Regions from separate parts of the Homo sapiens genome. Here regions 1, 2 and 3 are each reported to be linked to region 4. Evidence: microRNA targets listed by miRTarBase, many of them from high-throughput screens and not tested one by one. Region 4 holds a microRNA gene; each other region holds the end of a gene's coding sequence.

The links. The annotated mature microRNA hsa-miR-199a-3p reads ACAGUAGUCUGCACAUUGGUUA and lies in region 4 at 3,652-3,673, shown strand. An mRNA with a match to its seed (bases 2 to 7 or 8) in the 3' UTR can be bound and repressed. Matches are read on the target gene's strand: a 7mer-m8 pairs with bases 2 to 8, a 7mer-A1 pairs with bases 2 to 7 and ends in A, and an 8mer does both.
Region 1: the mRNA of CCDC59 is a reported target of hsa-miR-199a-3p. The part of its 3' UTR that is shown has no 7-base or 8-base seed match.
Region 2: the mRNA of CEP55 is a reported target of hsa-miR-199a-3p. Seed matches in the 3' UTR shown: 7mer-A1 at 1,217-1,223.
Region 3: the mRNA of TMEM18 is a reported target of hsa-miR-199a-3p. Seed matches in the 3' UTR shown: 7mer-A1 at 2,839-2,845.

What each region holds. Positions count from the first base shown.
Region 1 is chr12:82,348,480-82,353,632 of GRCh38, reverse strand. It overlaps CCDC59 (coiled-coil domain containing 59), which reads left to right. Exons shown (of 4, transcript NM_014167.5): 4 at 321-1,330. The coding sequence ends at 482. Among named protein-coding and RNA genes, the nearest start is that of CCDC59, 7.3 kb to the left of the region's middle.
Region 2 is chr10:93,527,172-93,532,314 of GRCh38, forward strand. CEP55 (centrosomal protein 55) reads left to right here. Exons shown (of 9, transcript NM_018131.5): 9 at 779-1,921. The coding sequence ends at 982. Among named protein-coding and RNA genes, the nearest start is that of CEP55, 33 kb to the left of the region's middle.
Region 3 is chr2:665,134-670,286 of GRCh38, reverse strand. TMEM18 (transmembrane protein 18) reads left to right here. Exons shown (of 5, transcript NM_152834.4): 4 at 437-530; 5 at 612-5,153. The coding sequence ends at 707. Among named protein-coding and RNA genes, the nearest start is that of TMEM18-DT, 9.7 kb to the left of the region's middle.
Region 4 is chr19:10,815,949-10,821,101 of GRCh38, reverse strand. It overlaps MIR199A1 (microRNA 199a-1), which reads left to right and starts at 3,606; the gene lies at 3,606-3,676. DNM2 (dynamin 2) reads right to left here. Exons shown (of 21, transcript NM_001005361.3): 16 at 1,013-1,122.

The DNA.
Region 1 (5,153 bases), not on the chromosome of region 4:
CATCTGTCACCTTTGGAAACAGTATATCAGATGAAGTGCAGTAATGACCATTATGCTGTAAAACATTTAATGTCCTTTTAAAATTTTGTTTATATAGAGCTGGGGCTTTGTGATCATGAAAATTCTCTGTTATACCATGGGTCATTATAATATGAAGGCAAAGAGGGTACTTTGCTTCAATTAGGAGAAACAGTGCACATCTTGCAAAATAGAAGAGACAAACCTTAGAGTGTTTGCTTAGTAATAGCTATTTCAAGACAATTTCTGAACTGTATCTACTGTTTGTTGCTAATGAAAGTTACATATGTTAATAATTTTAGGAATTCGAGAGGAGAAAACAGGAGAGAGAAGAAGCCCAAAGGCAGTACAAAAAGAAGAAAATGGAAGTGTTTAAAATACTGAACAAAAAGACTAAAAAGGGCCAACCAAACTTGAATGTACAAATGGAGTACCTTCTTCAAAAAATACAAGAAAAATGTTAAACATTTTGTTCCTACAGGTTAAAATATCTGCTGCCTATTAGGTTCTTCTGTGACATGTGCCTCCCAGCAGTGAACTAAATTTGTCGACATAAACTGGATTGCTAAACTATGCTAAATATAAGATGTTCACATATTTTTATTATGGTAAAAAATTTTCTAAATATGTTCTACATGTTTCTTATTTATTTGCCTCTGAAGGAAGGTTGGCCTGAAGAACTGAAAGAACCTCTTATTTTGCAAGACAGGCCCAAGCATGTAATACTTTTGTACCATATGAGATTTATATGAAATAAATTTTTTAAAAATAAGGAATCAGAGCTATCAATGAAGCATTTCAATGAAATATTTCAATTTAGTAAACAGTTACGTTGTTTTAAAATTTATTTTAATGATGAGGGAGGCAAAGACTCCTCTTGGACTTTTTATTTATTTTAAGTACATGTTACAGGGTGATGGGTGCTGAAATAAACTGCCCTCACCATATAACAAAGCGACCTTCACAAAGCAGTGAACTCAAAGTCTGATATTTATAAACATTCCCTTAAATGGATGTACATGGCTTGTTAGTCTAAGGTCTTTTAAATAATGATGGAAACCCCACAGTGTCACAGCAAGAATTAAGCTTTCCAGTTCCTATGGACCCTATACTTTAAGAACATTATCTCTGTCTCCCTTGTTGGTACCCTTGTGAGCTGAGATAAGCCACTGGGATAACTGCTTCTCATGCTTTGCAAATTGCAGAAGAATGAGAAAGGCTTGAAATATATATATAGTCATTGTAAGCAAAAAGGGCTGACCAATAATACTTGCCAAATATTGAATAATAAAATTTTATAAATGATAGCAAATACAGTCTGAAATTGCATTAAGATTTTAGGGAGCTCTTTCAGTCTACTAATTTATTCTGCATTTCAAGATCAGTAGAAAGTGCTTAGATAACACTGAACTTAATCTTCATTGCATAGAAAAGCAATGCTTTAGAAATTTGCATTGCACTATATTGCATTTAAAGTAAGCAGCCCAGAAAGCCTAAATTTGGCTACATTGGTGAAGACACATCACATCATGATGGAGGATAAATTATTTCAGTAAATTGCTTTACAATTTTTGTGCATTTTCACTTCTAGACACTTAATCATGACAAAACATGGAAGGAGATCTAGTCCTTTTGAGAGACAAGTGAAAGTCAAATTATATTCATTTTAACGACTTTGTTAAAAGCTACTTTATGCAAAACTTATATTAAGGAGTTACTCTTTAAAATTCCAAAGTTCTTGTAGAGGAATAAATGCCAAGTAATGGTATAATGGGGGAAAAAGTAATCAGTGACAATCAGATAAAGCAAAAGGTTAAGATTTTAGTGTTATCAATGAAGCACCCAGGAAGCTTTTCCTTTTTCGTTTTTTTTTTTTTTATTATCTTGGTGGTGGACAGTCTCCCGCCCACGCTGCAGTGCAGTGGTGTGATCATGGCTCACAGCAGCCTCAAACTCCTGGGCTCAAGTTATCCTGCTCAGCCTCACGAGTAGCTGGGACTACATGTACGTGCCAACACCTGGCTAACATTTTCTGTAGAGATGAGGTCTTGCCAAGTTCAGCCTTGCCTGGGCTGGTTTTGAACTGGCCTCAGGGATCCTTATGGCTCAACCTTGGCCGTACAAAGTGCTGAGATTATAGGTGTGAGCCACTGTGCCTGGCCTATAGGCTTCTTAAGAGGCATGTTTGAGGACCCTACACTAAGGAATTTGGATACTGTAGATGGGCTTAGTAATGGATGTTTTAACAGGCAACCCCAGTGATTCTGCTGGGTTGCTCCTCGCCACACTTAAAAAATGTTGGACCAGGGCCTCAGAGAAGAAAGAGGTTTTGTTTGGTTTAAGAAATCAGAGAAAGTTTCATGTGTGCAATAGCATTTAAGGAAAGCCTTCGAGGTTAAAAAGATTAGAAGTGTAAGAGCATGAGGAAAGTTACAAAGGGAAGCAAGCTTGGTATTATTTAAATATCTAATAAGTAGTTAGAATATATTATTATTGATGGAGGTAATAGTTCCTATCGGTTCCCTATTGTTTCCTTCCATGTGGAGAAGACACCATCATCCAAACACTCATGGTATCTTTACTTCTTGTCCCACTTGTTCCACCCAGGGGAGGTAAAGTAATAAATGATGTCTGGGAGGAGGACCTGGGCTGTCAGCAGAGTGCATGTACTCTTAATTGCTATTCTAATACTATAAGTGAAGAACAGGCTATATTGATAAATGTTAGAAGGGGGATGGATATTTTTGGAAAATATATATAGAAATTTGTGCTATATGGGTTAGTACATCAAGAAATAAAAGAGGAATAAAATTTGAAGGAGCACAACATAGAAAGAGAGAGGCTTAATTGTGGCCATAGCTTATGGTTTCTGGTTTCAGACCTTAATGTATACGTAGGGAGCTTTGATCTTGGTAGTTTGTAGAGGCTTCTATTAGGGCTATTAATTTGACTTTGTAAGTGTGAAGTAGGCTTTTAGTTGCAGTTTTGGCAAGAGGCTTTAAGACTTAAGGCACGTGGGATTTTGACCTAAAAGTTTAGGATATCTTTGTCCAGAGAAATTGGTAATTTCTATAGAGACAATGTGCAATACTGGGCTTTAAGCACATATGCGCAGGCCTCAATGAAGCAGAGTTTGAGTGAGGGTGATGGAGACATATTGGCTTCAGCAAAGACAGAGAATCTGGAAGTGGGGCTCACCCAAATGCTGGCCTCATGGATGTCCTCACCAGATGCCAGCCCAAGGTGAGGCTTAGCAAGCTACTGTAGTGGTGCTGGCATCAACAAAGGCACTGGCATGTGCAAGTGGTCTCATGCAGGCTACTGCAGCTTGACCTTGGCCTACATTAAATATGCATGTGTGAGCAGCAAAGGCCTCACTCATCAGATGCTGCTAACTCGACACCAGAAAACAATTTTATTCGTGGCAAGGATTTAATGATATAAGAAGAAATATTCATAGCTATGCTAGATGTTAATGACTGTATCAGTATTTGCTACTTTTAAAGACATGTGCCTTGGTTGCAATATAAAGTTCTAGAAAAGCTCAAGGTCTAAATTGTTCTGAGAGTCATTGAAATGCTGTGTAAAAGAGAAAATTTTGAATCTGAAGATATTTGAACATACTGGGAAAAGATCAGGTCTCCTTTGACTTGGTGATTGGGACTGGACCACTCCAAATTCTATACTTGGTAAGATAGCATCAGTGTTTCAGATGTCACTTTCTGAAAGAGAAGATAGAGTACCATGCTAAATGCATGGTGAAAAGTTTAACTTGTTGCTGACAAATTTCTTCCAACTTAGTTTAAGTGTGCAGCTCATGTGACTGGCATTCTGATAAGGCTAAAGCCATCACCGGTTATCTTCCTTCCTACTGATTCATGAGTTCCTGCTATAGAGTTTCTGCTACATGTAGTCTTTGGCAATAAATACTACTGAGTTTTGGGAGCATAATTTTGTACAGGATAACTGCCTTTTAAATTTGGTGGGTATAAGGCAAGTATTGTAATTACCTTGGGTGTTTTATTGACTCTCCAGACCTTTTGTAAGTTGAGGCACACCATAGAGTTATTGAACTAATTTAACTTCTGAAGTGCCAAATGAATGTGTTGTATCCATATCCAAAAAGAGACAGCCAGGCTGCAGCTGCTGAAGGAATCCTGAGAGGCATTAAGAACATTTCTGCCTGTGAGTGAATCCAATAAGAAACTGGGAAGGGCTTTAATTTTATTGAACTTTTACCTTATTACAGTGAGAGAATTTGATTCTGGGTTTTGATTATTTTGGTCTTTGGACATTAACTTGAAAGGTAACTTAATATGTAGACTTAATTTTCTCCCCAGGAGTTTGATAAGAGGAAAGATTTATACTGAAAGGTGGGACATCTGCATTTTGCTGGCAAATTAACATTGGGTGCTTTTTATGTATTTGGATAATTCCCATTGAGAACACTTGATTGAATCACCCATGGAGCTGATAGAGAGCCCTGTGGTGGAAATGCTACTTATGGGCCTGATGACCTTGGGTTTTACAAAAAGATTTATTGAGGTATAATTGACTGAGCATACATAAAATGTTCAATTTGGTGACTCTTGACACTTGCATATGCTCATGAAACCATCACGGCAATCAACTACCTATCACCATCACTTCCTAACGTTTCCTCATGGCCTGTTGTAGTCAATCCCAGGCAGCCACTAATCTGCTCTGTCACTAGTATGCATTTTCAAAATTTTTATATAATCAGGATCATATACTATAAACTTTTTTGTCTGGGCCTCTTTAAGTCAGCATAATTATTTGGAGATTCATCCATGTTGTTGGATTTATCAAAAGTTTGCTCCTTTGTATTGCTGAGTGTTCTATTGTATGGACATAGACAATTTGTTTATCCATTCACCTGCTGATAGGCATGATAGGCATTCTTTTTTTTTTTTTTGAGACTCAGTCTCACTCTGTTGCTCAGGCTGGAGTGCACCAGTGCATTCTCAGCTCACTGCAACCTCCACTGCCTGGGTTCATATGATTCTCCTTCCTCAGCCTCTCAAGTAGCTGAGATTACAGACGCATGCTACCACACCTGACTAATTTTTGTATTTTTAGTGGAGACAGGGTTTTGTGACGTTGACCAGGCTGGT
Region 2 (5,143 bases), not on the chromosome of region 4:
CTCCAAGTTCTTAGAAAAAAAACACAAAAAAGGAAAGTCTCAAAGGTATGATAGAATATCTTAGTCATTTCTGTGTATAAGCTGTTTGAGCTGCTAAAATTGCTTGCTGCCTTTAATTTCCATGTAGTACTTTATTGCTGACGTTGCCTCTGTTTTACAAAACTAGCAAATTTAATCAGCCTTGCATATAGGCCTACCTAATATTCGACTCTGTGTCCTAATAAAACATATTCATATATACACCCAACTCCCATATCTGGGTAATTTGGATAATTACAGTAGTTATCTGGATAAATTCACAACTACCTCATATATTACCCTCATAATACTGATGAGCTGAAATTCAAAAGAAAATCTGTCTACAGTGCTGAAGCAGCTATAATACTTATGGAACAGTTAAAATTGCTGAACAGGCTGGGTGCAGTGGTTCATGCCTGTAATCCCAACACTTCGGGAGGCTGAGGTGGGCAGATCACTTGAGCTTAGGAGTTTGAGACCAGCCTGGGCAACATAGAATTAATTTTTTGTAGAATTTTCTATTTCTACAAAAAATAGAAATATTATCTGGACGTGGTGACATGTGCCTGTAGTCCCAGCTACTTAGGAGGCTGAGGTGAGAGGATTGCTTAAGCCTGGGAGGTCGAGGCTGCAGTGAGCCATGTTTGTGCCACTACACTCTGGCCTGGGTGACAGAGTGAGACTGCCTCAAAAAAAGAAAAAAAAAAAGCTGAACATTGGCCCTATTTACAAATTCTATTATTTGAAACTTATTTTTCAGAAACAGCTTCATGAGTTTGCCATCACAGAGCCATTAGTCACTTTCCAAGGAGAGACTGAAAACAGAGAAAAAGTTGCCGCCTCACCAAAAAGTCCCACTGCTGCACTCAATGAAAGCCTGGTGGAATGTCCCAAGTGCAATATACAGTATCCAGCCACTGAGCATCGCGATCTGCTTGTCCATGTGGAATACTGTTCAAAGTAGCAAAATAAGTATTTGTTTTGATATTAAAAGATTCAATACTGTATTTTCTGTTAGCTTGTGGGCATTTTGAATTATATATTTCACATTTTGCATAAAACTGCCTATCTACCTTTGACACTCCAGCATGCTAGTGAATCATGTATCTTTTAGGCTGCTGTGCATTTCTCTTGGCAGTGATACCTCCCTGACATGGTTCATCATCAGGCTGCAATGACAGAATGTGGTGAGCAGCGTCTACTGAGACTACTAACATTTTGCACTGTCAAAATACTTGGTGAGGAAAAGATAGCTCAGGTTATTGCTAATGGGTTAATGCACCAGCAAGCAAAATATTTTATGTTTTGGGGGTTTTGAAAAATCAAAGATAATTAACCAAGGATCTTAACTGTGTTCGCATTTTTTATCCAAGCACTTAGAAAACCTACAATCCTAATTTTGATGTCCATTGTTAAGAGGTGGTGATAGATACTATTTTTTTTTTCATATTGTATAGCGGTTATTAGAAAAGTTGGGGATTTTCTTGATCTTTATTGCTGCTTACCATTGAAACTTAACCCAGCTGTGTTCCCCAACTCTGTTCTGCGCACGAAACAGTATCTGTTTGAGGCATAATCTTAAGTGGCCACACACAATGTTTTCTCTTATGTTATCTGGCAGTAACTGTAACTTGAATTACATTAGCACATTCTGCTTAGCTAAAATTGTTAAAATAAACTTTAATAAACCCATGTAGCCCTCTCATTTGATTGACAGTATTTTAGTTATTTTTGGCATTCTTAAAGCTGGGCAATGTAATGATCAGATCTTTGTTTGTCTGAACAGGTATTTTTATACATGCTTTTTGTAAACCAAAAACTTTTAAATTTCTTCAGGTTTTCTAACATGCTTACCACTGGGCTACTGTAAATGAGAAAAGAATAAAATTATTTAATGTTTTAATATGTCTAGTGTATTCGTGTATATATAGATATTCTAAGATTCTTGTTTAAAAAAACAAATGTGTTGGACATAATCAAAATTCAAGATTTTCACAATAAAATATTTAAGACATAATTCAAAGCACATTATCAAAAAAGTGAAAATACAACCAACAGAAAGAGAAAAAATATTTTCAAACCATGTATCTGATAAGGGTCTAGTATCCAGAATATATAAAGCACCATTACAACTCAATAAATAGATATTCTAAGATTCTTACCCCCAAGGACTTATCAGGGGTTACAGATTAACACTCAGTGTAAGATGATAAGGCAGTTAAGGATACATCAGAACCGAAAACTATGTGAAGGAGTTAGAAGGAGTAGATGCTTTCACGCATCTTTCTTAAATAAATAACTCTTTATCAATAAATATGAATTTGAGTTATTTGTTACAGAGGCAAAACAATAAGCATGCCAAATTATATAGGGTTTTTTTTTCTAACCATAGAAATTATACAGATCTGTTGATGGAAATAAAATTTTGCCATTACTGTTAATCCCAGGCTCACAAGATCTTCAACTACAGTTGAACAAAAGATATGGACATATTCAGCCGCATAGTTCTTATTCCGATCCACAATGTTATAGCAAAGACCATAGTATTAAATCATAAATATATGCCATAAGGAAGTTGCTCCCCTTACAACTTTAAAGCAAGCCAGTATTACCTCTAGTTTGTAGATGTGGAACATGTCTTGGTCATCCAGTGAGCAGTGGAGTCAAGCAGAACCCAGGCCTTTGGTCCGTGCCTGTATGGAACAAGAGATGTGGTCTCATGGGATAACTGGCCAGGACATAAACCATAACAGAAGCGCCAGCCTGATGACCTCTGAAGTTTGATTCCCAGAGCCACAGGGTGATCTGGAGTTTGTTTCAAGACTCTTGTACTTTCTGTGTTTCACTGGAGGGCTGTACTTAGCTTTCCCTGCTCACTTTAGCCACCTACATCTGGGCACCAATATCAAAAAAATAACTTTGGAAAAATTGGGCAGGCTTCTTGTGGAGCTCTGCTACTGTAGAGGGGGAATTTATATATTTCCGAAGAGTAGATGATTTAGAGCAGGAAGGATTCTACTTTCCCAGATCATGTTACCAAAGCAAGGGTCAATAAAAGGCATCTTCAAGACCTGAAAATCTTCAAGGTTCTCATAATTGAAGACTTTTTTTTCCCCCTTCACTGTCCACCTTTTTTCTTGGCAGATAACCGCTTACCCTTAGGGCATGTTTTCTTCTGTGGGACTGTAAACTACCAGAAACCATGCTAGATACTTTAACTACTTATACTCATTAGCTCTTCCTTGCAAATCTGTGAAGTAAAGTGCTAGCACCAGCACCATTTTTCAGATGAGAAAACTAAGGCTTGCAGAGAGTGAACAATTTGCCCAAGGTCACCACTGATAAGTAGTAAAGAAAGGATATAAACTCAGCTCAGTGTGTCGCAGAGTTCATCTCTCTCCATTGTACAGTTACATTCCCAACCAACATGCTGGGGCTGCCATGCCAGGATTACTCCACTCTGTTGCTTTTTATTAAAAAATTATGTTACATATTTTATTACACAATTATTTTACATAAAATAAAATGTACAGATCAATGAGTTTTGACAGATGTATATATATATCATTGTAATCATCAGCCAAATAAAGTTATAGACTCTACCAACATTTCTGAAAGTTTCTTTAATTACTTCTAGTCCAGAATCCCCTCCTCCCAGAGGCAATCTAATTTATTTTTATTTTTATTTATGTATTTATTTTTAGAGACAGGGTCCCCTCTGTCACCCAGGCTGGAGTGCAGTGGTACAGTCATAGCTCACTGCAGTCTTAAACTCCTGGGCTCAAGTGATCCTCCTGCCTCAGCCTCCCAAGTACCTAGGACTGCAAGCATATGCCACCATGCCTTGCTAATATTTTTAATTTTTTATAGAGACATGGTCTCATTGTGTTGTCCAGTCTGGTCTCAAACTCCTGGGCAAATGCAATTCTCCTGCCTTGGCCTCCCAAATTGTTGGGATTACAGGTGTGAGTCACCGCACCTGGCCCTATTTATCTTAACACATGCTAAATTAATAACTACACTAATTAACTAAATTACTAAATGCCACAATAAATTAACAAAATTAATAAGACTAATGCTGGAGTGTTATTGTGTCTTGAAATCAGGGTAAGTCCCCCAACTTTATTCTTCAAGAATGTCTTGACTAATATAGGACATTTCCATTTTCATATACATTTTAAAATCAGCTTGTCAATTTTTACAAAAGTTTCCTGGAATTTCCATTGGGATAGTATATATCTATAGATTAATTTCTCAAAAATTGACATCTGCACAATCCAGAAACATTTCTTCATTTAGTTCTTTTTTAGCTGCTCTCAGCAATGTTTACAGCTTTCAGTGCATAGAGCTTAGCCTTTTATTAAGTTTATTCTTGAAAGTCTGAGTTTTATGCTATTATAAATGGCCTTTTAAAAATTTATTTTCCAGCCAGGCGCAGTGGCTTACACCTGTAATCCCAGCACTTTGGGAGGCCGAGGTGGGTGGATCTCTCGAGGTCAGGAGTTCGAGACCAGCCTGGCCAACATGGTGAAAACCCATCTCTACTGAAAATACAAAAATTAGCCAGGAGTGGTGGTGTGCACCTGTAATTCTAGCTACTGGAAAGGCTGAGGCACAAGAATCACTTGAACCCAGGAAGTAGAGGTTGCAGTGAGCCAAGATCATGCCACTGCACTCCAGCCTGGGCAACAGAGTGAGACTCTGTCTCAAAAAAAAAAAATTATTTTCTAATTGTTTGTTGCTAGGGTTAGAAATGCAACTGATTTTTGTATATTGACCTAGTAGCATCCTGGAATCTTATTAATTTATTAATTAATTTTAGTATTTTCACCTCTCTGAATTCAAATATTGTATTTTACAGTTCTAGAACAGTGCTGTCCAATGGAAATATGCAAGCCTCATGTAATTTTGTTTTCCAGTAGCCACATTAAAAAATACTAAAATAGACAAGGGATGGTGGCTCACTTCTGTAATCCCAGTACTTTGGGACGCCAAAGCAGACAGATCACTTGAGCCCAGGAGTTTGAGACCAGCCTGGGAAACATGGCGAAACTCTTTGTACCAAAAAAAAAAAAAAGAAAGAAAAAAAAAATTAACTGGGAATGGTGGTGCATGCCTGTAGTCC
Region 3 (5,153 bases), not on the chromosome of region 4:
CAGTGCAGCTGTGGAGCAGACGCAGCTGCTGTCCCTTTGTCATTTACGGGGAGGGGATTATTGACGTTGTTACTCTGTAGGTTTTAAGGATTTCAAGTCATCAGTGTCTTCCAGCTAAGGTCAGATGTGCTGCTGATGACCCAGAGGGCTTGCAGGGTGACGTCTCTCTGCTGGGGGAGGCCTCGGGGTCTTTCCTGTGCTGCTGGGTGGTGTCTCCCTGTCCTGTGACCCAGTGTGTTTTCTTCATAATGAGCATTCATTGCATTTGGGACAGTACAGTGGAGATTACCGCTGCTCCCAAGGGTGGGCCCAGTGAGGGTGTTGCTCCCACCTCAGTCCACATCAGCTCTCTCCAAAGTCTTATCTAAATAGACGGTGTCACTAGAACTTTTTGGTTGTATTGCCTAGTAATTTTTTGTTTTTGTTTTTTAAACAGATTATTTTCGAAATACCAGTATTTCGACTCCAGGGGGATGTTCATTTCTATAGTATTTTCAGCCCCACTGCTGGTGAATGCCATGATCATTGTGGTACGTAGATGACACTTTCAGTTGTCTTTCTTCATGTGTATGTTTTTCAAATCTAAACATGTCTCAAACAATTGTGTTTAGGTTATGTGGGTATGGAAGACTTTGAATGTGATGACTGACCTGAAGAATGCACAAGAGAGAAGAAAGGAAAAGAAAAGGAGAAGGAAAGAAGACTGAGGGGCAGCAGCTGCTTGGAGTTTGCGTCCTTCCCGTCCACCCAGTGCAGCTCCCAGTGCTGCAGTGTGCGTGGCGTGGGCATCCTTCCAGCTGACTCATGGTTTGAAAAACCGTTGTTTTATTTAAATATCCACAGTGGTAGGGCACACACTGAAGTTGGCTTTTCAGCCAGCACTGAATGTATCCATCAGGACATGCGTCTTCAGGTGCCTGATCTTTGTAGTCAGGCTGTGGGAACGGTCTCTGCAGAGCTTCATAACTGGGAATTTGATTTGAAGAAGTCCATGTCATATGTGTAACTAGTACTAATTATAAATATAAAATACACAATATAAAATATGAAACTCAATAATAAACAGTGCCACCTGTACATGGGCACCATGCCCTCCTCCTCGTGCTGTGTTTTCTAGTGCATGCCACAGTTCGCAGTAGAGGGTGTTTTCACCTTCCAAGACATGGGGCAAAGTTTGGAGACACCTGGTTGTCACTGGAGGGGGTGGTGCTCCTGGCTTCTCCTGTGGAGCCCGGGGTGATGCATAAAATCCTGTGTGCCTGGGTCAGCCGCATCACAGACAATGACTTGACATGAAATGTCAGCTGTGCTGGGGCAGAGAGACCTTGGAAGGAAGCTCTTGGAAAATACGTTGTATCTCAGTTTGATGAACCAATTCACAAGAGGCTAGGCCCTCTCTAGCAAAGTTATGGGCTGCTTTACTGAAAACAGAATGGAAGCCCTGAAGTCAACACTCCATGGAGAAGCGTGTCTTTCCTAATGTCCTGGTGTTCTGTTGATTTAGGTGCTTGGGAACACAATGCTCCCAGTTCTGTTAGGACAGGCATACTGTTACTTTGCAATATCCACTTTATAAAATAGCTCCTGCCCAGTGGCTCTTGGTTCCTGTCAAATGTGGACCTGTAGTTTAAGAATGACAGGTGGTTAGAGACCCAGATATTTAAAAATAGGTGTTCAATAAGGGAATACTGATTGTGCATTGTATCTGGATAGCATGCCTAATTGTGCATTTCTGAAAGTTACCAATTCAAAATGTAATTGGAACAGTTATCTTTGATTAGACAAGCCTGGGAAGAGAATGTTGAGGTGCAGAGCTCACCAGCCAAGTTCATGCCCCTCTCGGGCCTTTGTGGCTGAGAAGTGGGACAGAAAGATGATTAAGGTAATGTGTCCTCCCTGTAGCATTGTCCAGGGCCGTTGTGTAGATATTTGACTTCACTGACAGAAAAGAAACCAGGGAGTTTGTAGAGACTGTGCATTTTTAGTATAACATTTTCACCATCTGATATGGTTTGGCTTTGTGTCCCCACCCAAATTGCATCTCAAATTGTAATCCCCATGTGTCAAGGGAGGGACCTGATGGGAGGTGATGGGATCATGGGGGTGGTTTCCCCTATGTTGTTATCATAATAGAGAGGGAGTTCTCACAAGATCTGCTGGTTTTAAAGACAGCAGTTTCCCCTGCTGTCACTGTCTCTCTCCTGCTGCCTTGTGAAGAAGGTGCTTGTTTCTCCCTCTGCCATGATTGTAAGTTTCCCGAGGCCTCCCCGGCCATGTGGAACTGAGTCAATTAAACTTCTTGTTTATAAAGTAATCCAGGTCTCAGGTAGTATCTTTATAGCAGTGTGAGAACAGACTAATTAAACATCTATATGTTATTTGGACTTAATATGGGGCCGTGTGATTGAATCTCAGTTTGCCTGTGATAAAGTAGTGTAACAGTATTGCTAGCTTTGCATGAATTTGATGCTGATGACATGTCAGTGTGAAACCATGACGTGTGGTCTTTGATTTTCATTCTGCATGTGTGTGTCTGTGTTTTGGAACAGTTATATTTTGGTTTTGTAAAAACAACCTTCACTTTATTTTTAACTGTGTAGTAAGTTTATATTCAATGCCTTAAAGTGCATTGTTAACAATTGTCTTGATATGTTGTCCTCATTTTAGGGAAAGTCATAGAAGCCAAAATGATCAGCAGTTGAGTAATTTACGAAAGCACAGGTGCAATCCCACTTTAAAGCACTGGGGGTTGCACAGAGCACACTGGTTTCAGGCTCCATAAATGTGGATGACTCACTGGAGAGCTTCATCTGTTTAAGTAGAACAAATGTTTTTACTCTACTGATAAAGTACAGGAAAGGAGGTTTGGGATCAAAATTATTTTTCACATTCCAAACCTGTGACACCTTACGTTTATCGATTGCTATGCAATAAAATACATCTTTAATAATATGTAGTATTTTTTTTTGTTTTTTTCAAAAAAATGGTATTTGTTTTGCACCTTACTGTAACTGGAAACAGGAGCACCTGGAACTTAGCTCCACCTTTGGCTGGCAGGTCCCTTTGCTGCAGCATCTGGTGCTGAGTTTTAACAAACAAATGCAATTGTGTCCTTGCCAGTAGAAGAAAGTCTACTTGCACAGATAATGTATATCAAATCAGAAAGCAATATGCAACCTGAATGGCTAGCTTCTGTGAGAAGTAAAGTGGCAAGGAAATGTTAACATGTTCTTGCCCTTTACAAAATAATAAATGTTAAAAAAAAAAAAAAAGGGCTGGGGGTGGAATTCAGGGTAAGGAGCTTCAGTGGCGCGAAGTTGAGTGGGATGCTTAAAGACAGACGAGAATTGCCGTCAGAGATATACCGGTCAGGCCCAAGCATCTTTTCCCTGGAAAAGAACTTCAGGCTTCCTTGTCTGGATTTCAGTGGAGCACCCTTCTTCTTTCACCAAGTTAACCAGAACATGTTTTCAGTGCAGCCTTCCCCTCTTTACTGAAGCCCCTCTTGCTGGTCGACTACACCAGCAAGTCGGTCCTGGGGAGGACGGGGCTGGGCTCCACATGCAGAGTTCTCGGAGGCAGGAAGGGAGCGAGCCAGGGCAGAGAAGAGCACCCAGGGGGTGGCGCTGCCCAGTCCCAGGATGGTGCGAAGATGTCTCCAAGCCCTGGTTGCTGCACAGGGAAGGCAGGATGGGGCGGCGAGGCCCACGCAGGCTGTGGGTGCCATGCGTTGGTGGCAGCTTGTTCCGAGTGGGGCTGGAACAGTTGACAGCAAGCATCCTCATCGGCCTGGTAAGCTTTCTAGCTCCTCTTCCTCCGATGTTCCAGTTTCACAGCGGCCTGTACAGTTAGATCTTTCCTCGCTTTGGGGGAAGGTGTAGCTATTATAGTCTCCGAATCATGCTGTCATTAGAAATTGCACAAGACCTATGCCAGGGGAGGCGCTGACTGGCACAGGCCCTGAAAGGAACCTGAGGACAGAGAAGGAGCTCCCTGCAGCCTTCAGGCAGCCAAGCAGAGGCCTAAGTCCAAGCATGTGGCCATAGGGTCTGCTCTGTAAGCCTCAGGGCTACTGCCTTCTGCTCCAGTCCTGGGCCAAAACACCCTTCAGCAGCTCCTGCTCCATCTGAGCGAGCTGGATGTCAGCCTCCATGGGCCCTGTTGTGCATGGGGTTGATGCTTCATCTGAGTGAGCTGGGCATCTGCCTCCATGGGTCCTGTTGTGTGTAGGGTTGATGCTCCATCTCAGTGAGCTGAGCATCTGCATCTCGGGGTTCTGTTGTACATGGGGTTAATACTCCATCCGAGTGAGCTGGGCATCCGCATCTCTGGGTTTTGTGTGCGTGGGGTTAACACTCCATCTGAGTGAGCTGGGTGACTGCCTCCATGAGTCCTGTTGTGTGTGGGGTTGATGCTCCATCTGAGTGAGTGGGGCATCTGCATCTCTGTGTCCTGTTGTGTGTGGGGTTGATGCTGCATCTGAGTGAGTGGGGCATCTGCATCTCTGGGTCCTGTTGTGTGTGGGGTTGATGCTCCATCTGAGTGAGTGGGGCATCTGCATCTCTGGGTCCTGTTGTATGTAGGGTTGATTCTCTATCTGAGTGAGTGGGGCATCTGCATCTCTGGGTTCTGTTGTATGTGGGGTTGTTGCTCTGAGTGAGTGGTGCATCTGCATCTCTGGGTTCTATTTTATGTGGGGTTGATTCTCTGAGTGAGTGGGGCATCTGCATCTCTGGGTTCTAGTTTATGTGGGGTTGATTCTCTGTCTGAGTGAGTGGGGTGTTTGCATCTCTGGGTCCTGTTGTATGTGGAGTTGATTCTCTATCTGAGTGAGTGGAGCATCTGCATCTCTGGGTCCTGTTGTATGTGGGGTTGATTATCTGAGTGAATGGGGCATCTGCATCTCTGGGTTCTAGTTTATGTGGGGTTGATTCTCTATCTGAGTGAGTGGTGCATCTGCATCTCTGGGTTCTATTTTATGTGGGGTTGATTCTCTATCTGAGTGAGTGGGGTGTCTGCATCTCTGGATCCTGTTGTATATGGGGTTGATTCTCTATCGGAGTGAGTGGGGCATCTGCATCTCTGGGTTCTGTTGTATGTGGGAGTGATGCTCCATCTGAGCTGGGCGTCTGCATCTCTGGGTTTATGGATCC
Region 4 (5,153 bases):
GTAGGCAAGGAGGTTCTGGGGCCAGCAGGGAGGACGTCAGTGCCTGCCTACAGGTCTCAGGGTACCACCGGGCCTTTACTGACAGCTAATCCCTGACTCAGGTGGGCCCTGCTTCCTGGATGAGCGTGATTGTGTGAGCATGGGAAGAGCCCTCCTGCCAGCTGGGTTTCTTCCTGAGAGCAGTGTCTCTGCTAAAGTCTCCAGCTACGCCTCATGGGACAGATGTACTGTGAGCTTCCTGGGGCCTCCCATTCTCCAGCTTCACTCTCCTGGGAGCTCATCTGGTTTCGTTCCTTGAAATACCATCCACGCAATGGTGACTGCCCAGTTCACATCCCAGACTGGAGCTCGTTCCTGGACATCACACTCCTCGATCTACCCAGGTGCCTCCCTGATGCACCCTCTCCCTTGGCATGGCCTAAATGGAGCTCTTGGCTGTCTCCAGGCCTACCTGCCGCTGCCTTCCCCACCTCGGCCAATGGCAGCAGCTGGGCAGTGCAGGAGCTCAGGCCCACGTACTCAGGGTCACAATTGGTGCCTTTCTCTCTCATATCCATGCCCACCAGGGCTCCGCCTGACTCTTCTACCCAGAATCTGCACCCTCCTTCCCTATGGGTTCTGGCCCCATCATCGCCCACTTGGACAAGGCAGCGGCCTTTGCCCTCGTCCCCCATCTCTCACCCTCTCATACTGTTTCCCTCTCAGCCACCAGAGGGCTCCTGCAAGCACCTGAGCCAGGTCCTGGTCACCCTGTGCTCAGAACTCTCCATGGCTCCCACTGACTCGGAGCCTGCCTTCATCCTCATCTCTGCCCAGAGAGGTCATCTCTGACCCAGCACGGGAAGCATCCCTGGCATTTGCTATTTCTCACGTGACTCCCCTTTCTAAAAGCTGGGTCCCAAGGGCAGGGACTGCTGACAGCCAGGTGCTCAGTGCTCAGTGAAGGTTGTGGAGTGTGAATGAGGCCATTGGTCTTCACCCCGAGCCATCCCCAGGCCCCTGGGCCCCTCACCTCTGCTCCGTGTTGAAGATGGCGAAGACGTGCTTGTTGGACATGAAGCCCTTCTCCACATCACGGATCTTGAGGTTGTCCAGAGGCAGCATGTACTTCTTCTCTTTCTCCTGAGGGTGGAGGGAAAAGAGTCACCCTGAGCGGTCCACGTGACAACTCAGGATGCCCCAGGCCAGAGCGTGTAGCATGCGCCACCACCAGCCCCGGGGGCTTCTCAATGCTGGTCGCTGCTGTATATGAGCCCATCTGCCGGCCCTTCCCCGTCCGTCACTCTGTCCCAGCCACGCTGCCCTCCATGATGCTCCCTGAGTATCCCACCTGGGTTCCTACCCCAGGGCCTTCGGACGACCGGGCTACTGCCTGATCCTGACACTTGCATGGCTCCCTCCTGCCCTAACTCTACCCGCACCCTCCCCACCTCCATCCTCCTTTTCCCTCACACAACACGTCACGTATCCTGCGCTTGTTGACCTAGGTGCCTGACTGCCTGTGCTTATTGACCTAGGTGGCTGACTGCCACTGGACTGACTCAAGTTTCTCCAGGGCAGGGACTCCTGTTGAGTTCACTGCTGACATGTGGCTGACGGCACGCACAACACAACTGCCCCTCGCCTTGCACGAAGTGAATGGAACTTTTATCTGGGCTCCATCTTTGAAACGAGCCTAGGAGTGAGTTACCTCTGTGATGCCATTTTACAGAGGGGAAGACTGAGGCAGAGAGGAGCAGGGCTGGGATTTCAACCTTGGCCGCTTTAGGACATCTTGGGGCTGGATAGGTCCTGGGCCAGGTGCTGCAGAAGCCTTACTCCCTTTCTTTATTATTATCATTATCATTATTTTAATAGAGATGGGGTCTCGCTATGTTGCCCAGGCTGGTCTTAAACTCCTGGGTTCAAGCGAGCCTCCCAGAGTGCTGGGATTACAGGTGTGCACCACCGCACCTGCCCTATCACTTGCTTTCTAAGGTTGGCCCTGTTCAGGAAGCACCAAGTGCCAGCCACGGCTGTCCAGACTGCTAGGGAGGCAGCTCAGAGGTGGGCCCCTCGGCCAGGGGCAAGGGGCTGGCGAGTCACGGAGCTGGGGGTGGCACCCTGGAGTCCCACACTCACCCAGTGATGTGTGTGCCCACCCGCCACAGCAGCAGCTCTTGGGGACCCATGCCATGCACTGCTTGGTCTCAGTTCACGGATCCCTCCTAGCTCAGAGAGGGAAGCTGGCTGCCGAAGGCCACACGGCAGGCAGCGCAAGCCACAGCAGGACTTCAGAGGCCAGGTCTCTGTGACCCAAAGCCCAGTCCTCCCCACAGTGCCCCTGGCCCTTCTTCTCCCTGGGCCGTCTCTGGAAACTCCTCTCATGTCCCCTCACTGCGCTGCCCCAGCACAAAGCCTAACCTGGCTGCCGCCTCCAAGTTCAGGAGCAGCCACAGTGACTGTGGAGAAGGCAGCGGGGGCTCCCTGGCAAGTGGGGGCCAGCTGGGACTGTCAGGACTTTGCAAGGGGAGCCAGGATGAAGCAGTGGGCTTGGCACATGGGCTCAGCCTCAGGGCGTTAGGAGCTCAGCATGGTTGAGGTGATGCCAGCCCTGCCCTTTCCTGGCCGTGTGCCCTCGGGCAAGCCACTTCCCCGCCACCTCCCATTTCATCTCAGTTTCCTCATCTATCCAAGGAGGATGGAGGAGCTTGGTGCCCACTGCAGAGCTGGTGCCCATGAGCACCCGGGATTTTCTTTGGTTGCTCTTGTGAGCGGCTCCAGGATTAGCCTGCCAGGCTCTAGGCAAAGAAGTAGGGCAGAGCATAGGAAGAGGGGCCCGGTGGCCATGGAGGGAGCAGAGCATAGGAGAGGGGCCCGGTGGCCATGGAGGGAGCAGAGCATAGGAGAGGGGCCCGGTGGCCATGGAGGGAGGGATGCCGCTGCGGACCCAAGGGAGGGAAGGTGATGAAGAAAGCCTGCACCCGTCATCCCAGGCAAGGCTGGGTAACACAGGGCCTGGGTCCCTCCCACCTTTCGGGGAAGAGTTTTGGGGGCTTTAGAAGGGGCTAGGGGAGGGGGCTCTGCAGAAGCCCTGCCCCCGGCTCGGACGTTTGCCCAAGGGCCTTTGCTGCCCTGACCCTATCATATCACGCGGCCGGAAGCTTCCAGCCAGCAGGGCCAAGTAACTGAGTCACAGGCCATTCCAGCTAATGCCACATCTGGAACTGTTTACAGTGCGATTCCGCCGAGAAATCAGTGGCCGCCTTCCTGGTGCTGCCGGCACGCACGCGTGCGCGCGCGCGCACACACACACACACACGTGTGTGTGCGCCCCTCCTCCCCACCCCCGACCCCCAAAGAGTCAGACATTCCTCCTGAGCCCAGAAGCCACGATCCCAAACCCTGCCTCCTGCTCCGCCTCCCCCACTCTTTAGGATTTCCTGAAAACCCAGAACTTTCTCCAGATGCGAGCCGGCCCCAGCCTTGCCACGTCAGAAGGGACAGAGCGGATCGTCTCGGGAAGAGTGGTGGTTTCCTTGGCTGCTCAGAGGTGCTGAGGCACGGCCTGGCCTGGTGGCCCCAGCGTCTGCCTGGGGGGTTCTGCAGGATGGATAGCCGGCCCCGCCAACCCAGTGTTCAGACTACCTGTTCAGGAGGCTCTCAATGTGTACAGTAGTCTGCACATTGGTTAGGCTGGGCTTGGGTGAGCGGCTCGTCGAGACAGGCCCCCCAAACTCGCCGGCAGGTGAGTGTCATTTTCCACCACCCCGTTTCCCACTGTGGCAGAGCCTCGCATAGAAGATTCGAGGGCCTGGGTGGGAGAAGAGGCACTGGGGAAAGGCAGAGGGAGCCCCGAGGCCGGCCGAGGGGTTGGAGGCCCTGGCCCTATCAGTCTGCCATCCCCACCCCATGGCTGTAAATGTCTTGTTTATTTTTTAAATAAAGAGATATTGATGTCTTGTGTCTCACTGAGGCATCTAAGAGGGTGGCCTCCTCCTCAGGGGTGGCTGCCACGTGTGTGACTCCAAGGGTCCCTGCTGGGATCCTAACTTGGGTGGTGGCGGGGGTCAGGTTCCATGGCTGCCCCCTCCTGAATGGAGCCTGCTTTGTGTCTGGGGCTCACACAGGGCCCCTTTCACAGGTCGGCTGTTTCTCATTACGGCCGGCGCCCGGCCCTTCTCCCACTGCTGCTCCAGACTCCAGTGTGGGGCTCCACGGGAGGGTCGGGGGCTCTGGCTTTCAACTCTCAGATGAGAAAAACACGAAGGGCCCCTCACGTGAAGGAAGAGGAGATCTGAAAACTAGACTTGCAATGCTGCCAGGCAGAGAGCTGCCAGGCTGAGGTTCAGGCCCAGAGGCTCCTCCAAGGCTCGCTGCCCCAGGCCTGGCATTCCCACCCAGGGGACCCTGGAAGGTCCCCACAGCCCTGAACTGAAAGGCAGGGCACCAGCTCTCAGCCGGCCTGACAGCCCACACACCACAGCGCAGGCTGGTTTCTCACTGCAAGGCGGAAAGAGGGGAGAAAAAGAGAAAGGGCACCCTACCCCACCCCAGCCATTTTGAGGAGCCATCCGATCTGGACACGTGAGTTCCTAGAGGTGCCTGAGGCGGGGAGAAGGCTGCAGACCACGCCTGGCTCCACACTCCTCCCACATCCCAACCCCATGAGGTTCGCTGGATCTGAGGTTCTGGAAGCTTCCACAGGGACCCCAGAAATGCTTGTATGGTGGCTCAGCAGACTCCACCACCCTGGGTTTAGAAACAGCGCCCCAGAGTCCCGCAGAAGCCTCAGGGCTCCTGAGGTTTCAGGAACATTCCAGAGATGAGCGTCTGGCCTCATGTGGAGCGGGATGATCCTTTCACCCCCAATGTCCTCAGTCAAGGGGACATCAGGCCTGGGCTGCAGCGGAGGTGTTCGGATGTCGGGCTGGGGTGTCCCTCAGGTCAGGGAGCATGGGCCCGCAGACGTGCACTGGGGAAGCCTCCACCCCAGGGGGACCCTCCCCCGCTCCATGATGTGGGGCAAGTCACCGCTCAGAGCCTTAGATGGGGGTGACCACAGAGCCACCCGAATAGCAAGCGTGAGGGTTTCCTCACGGGGAGTAGGGTTCTCCTCAGGTGTGGCCTCAGTGGGCTCTCTTAGCCAATGAGCCCAGCACAGAGCAGGGGTC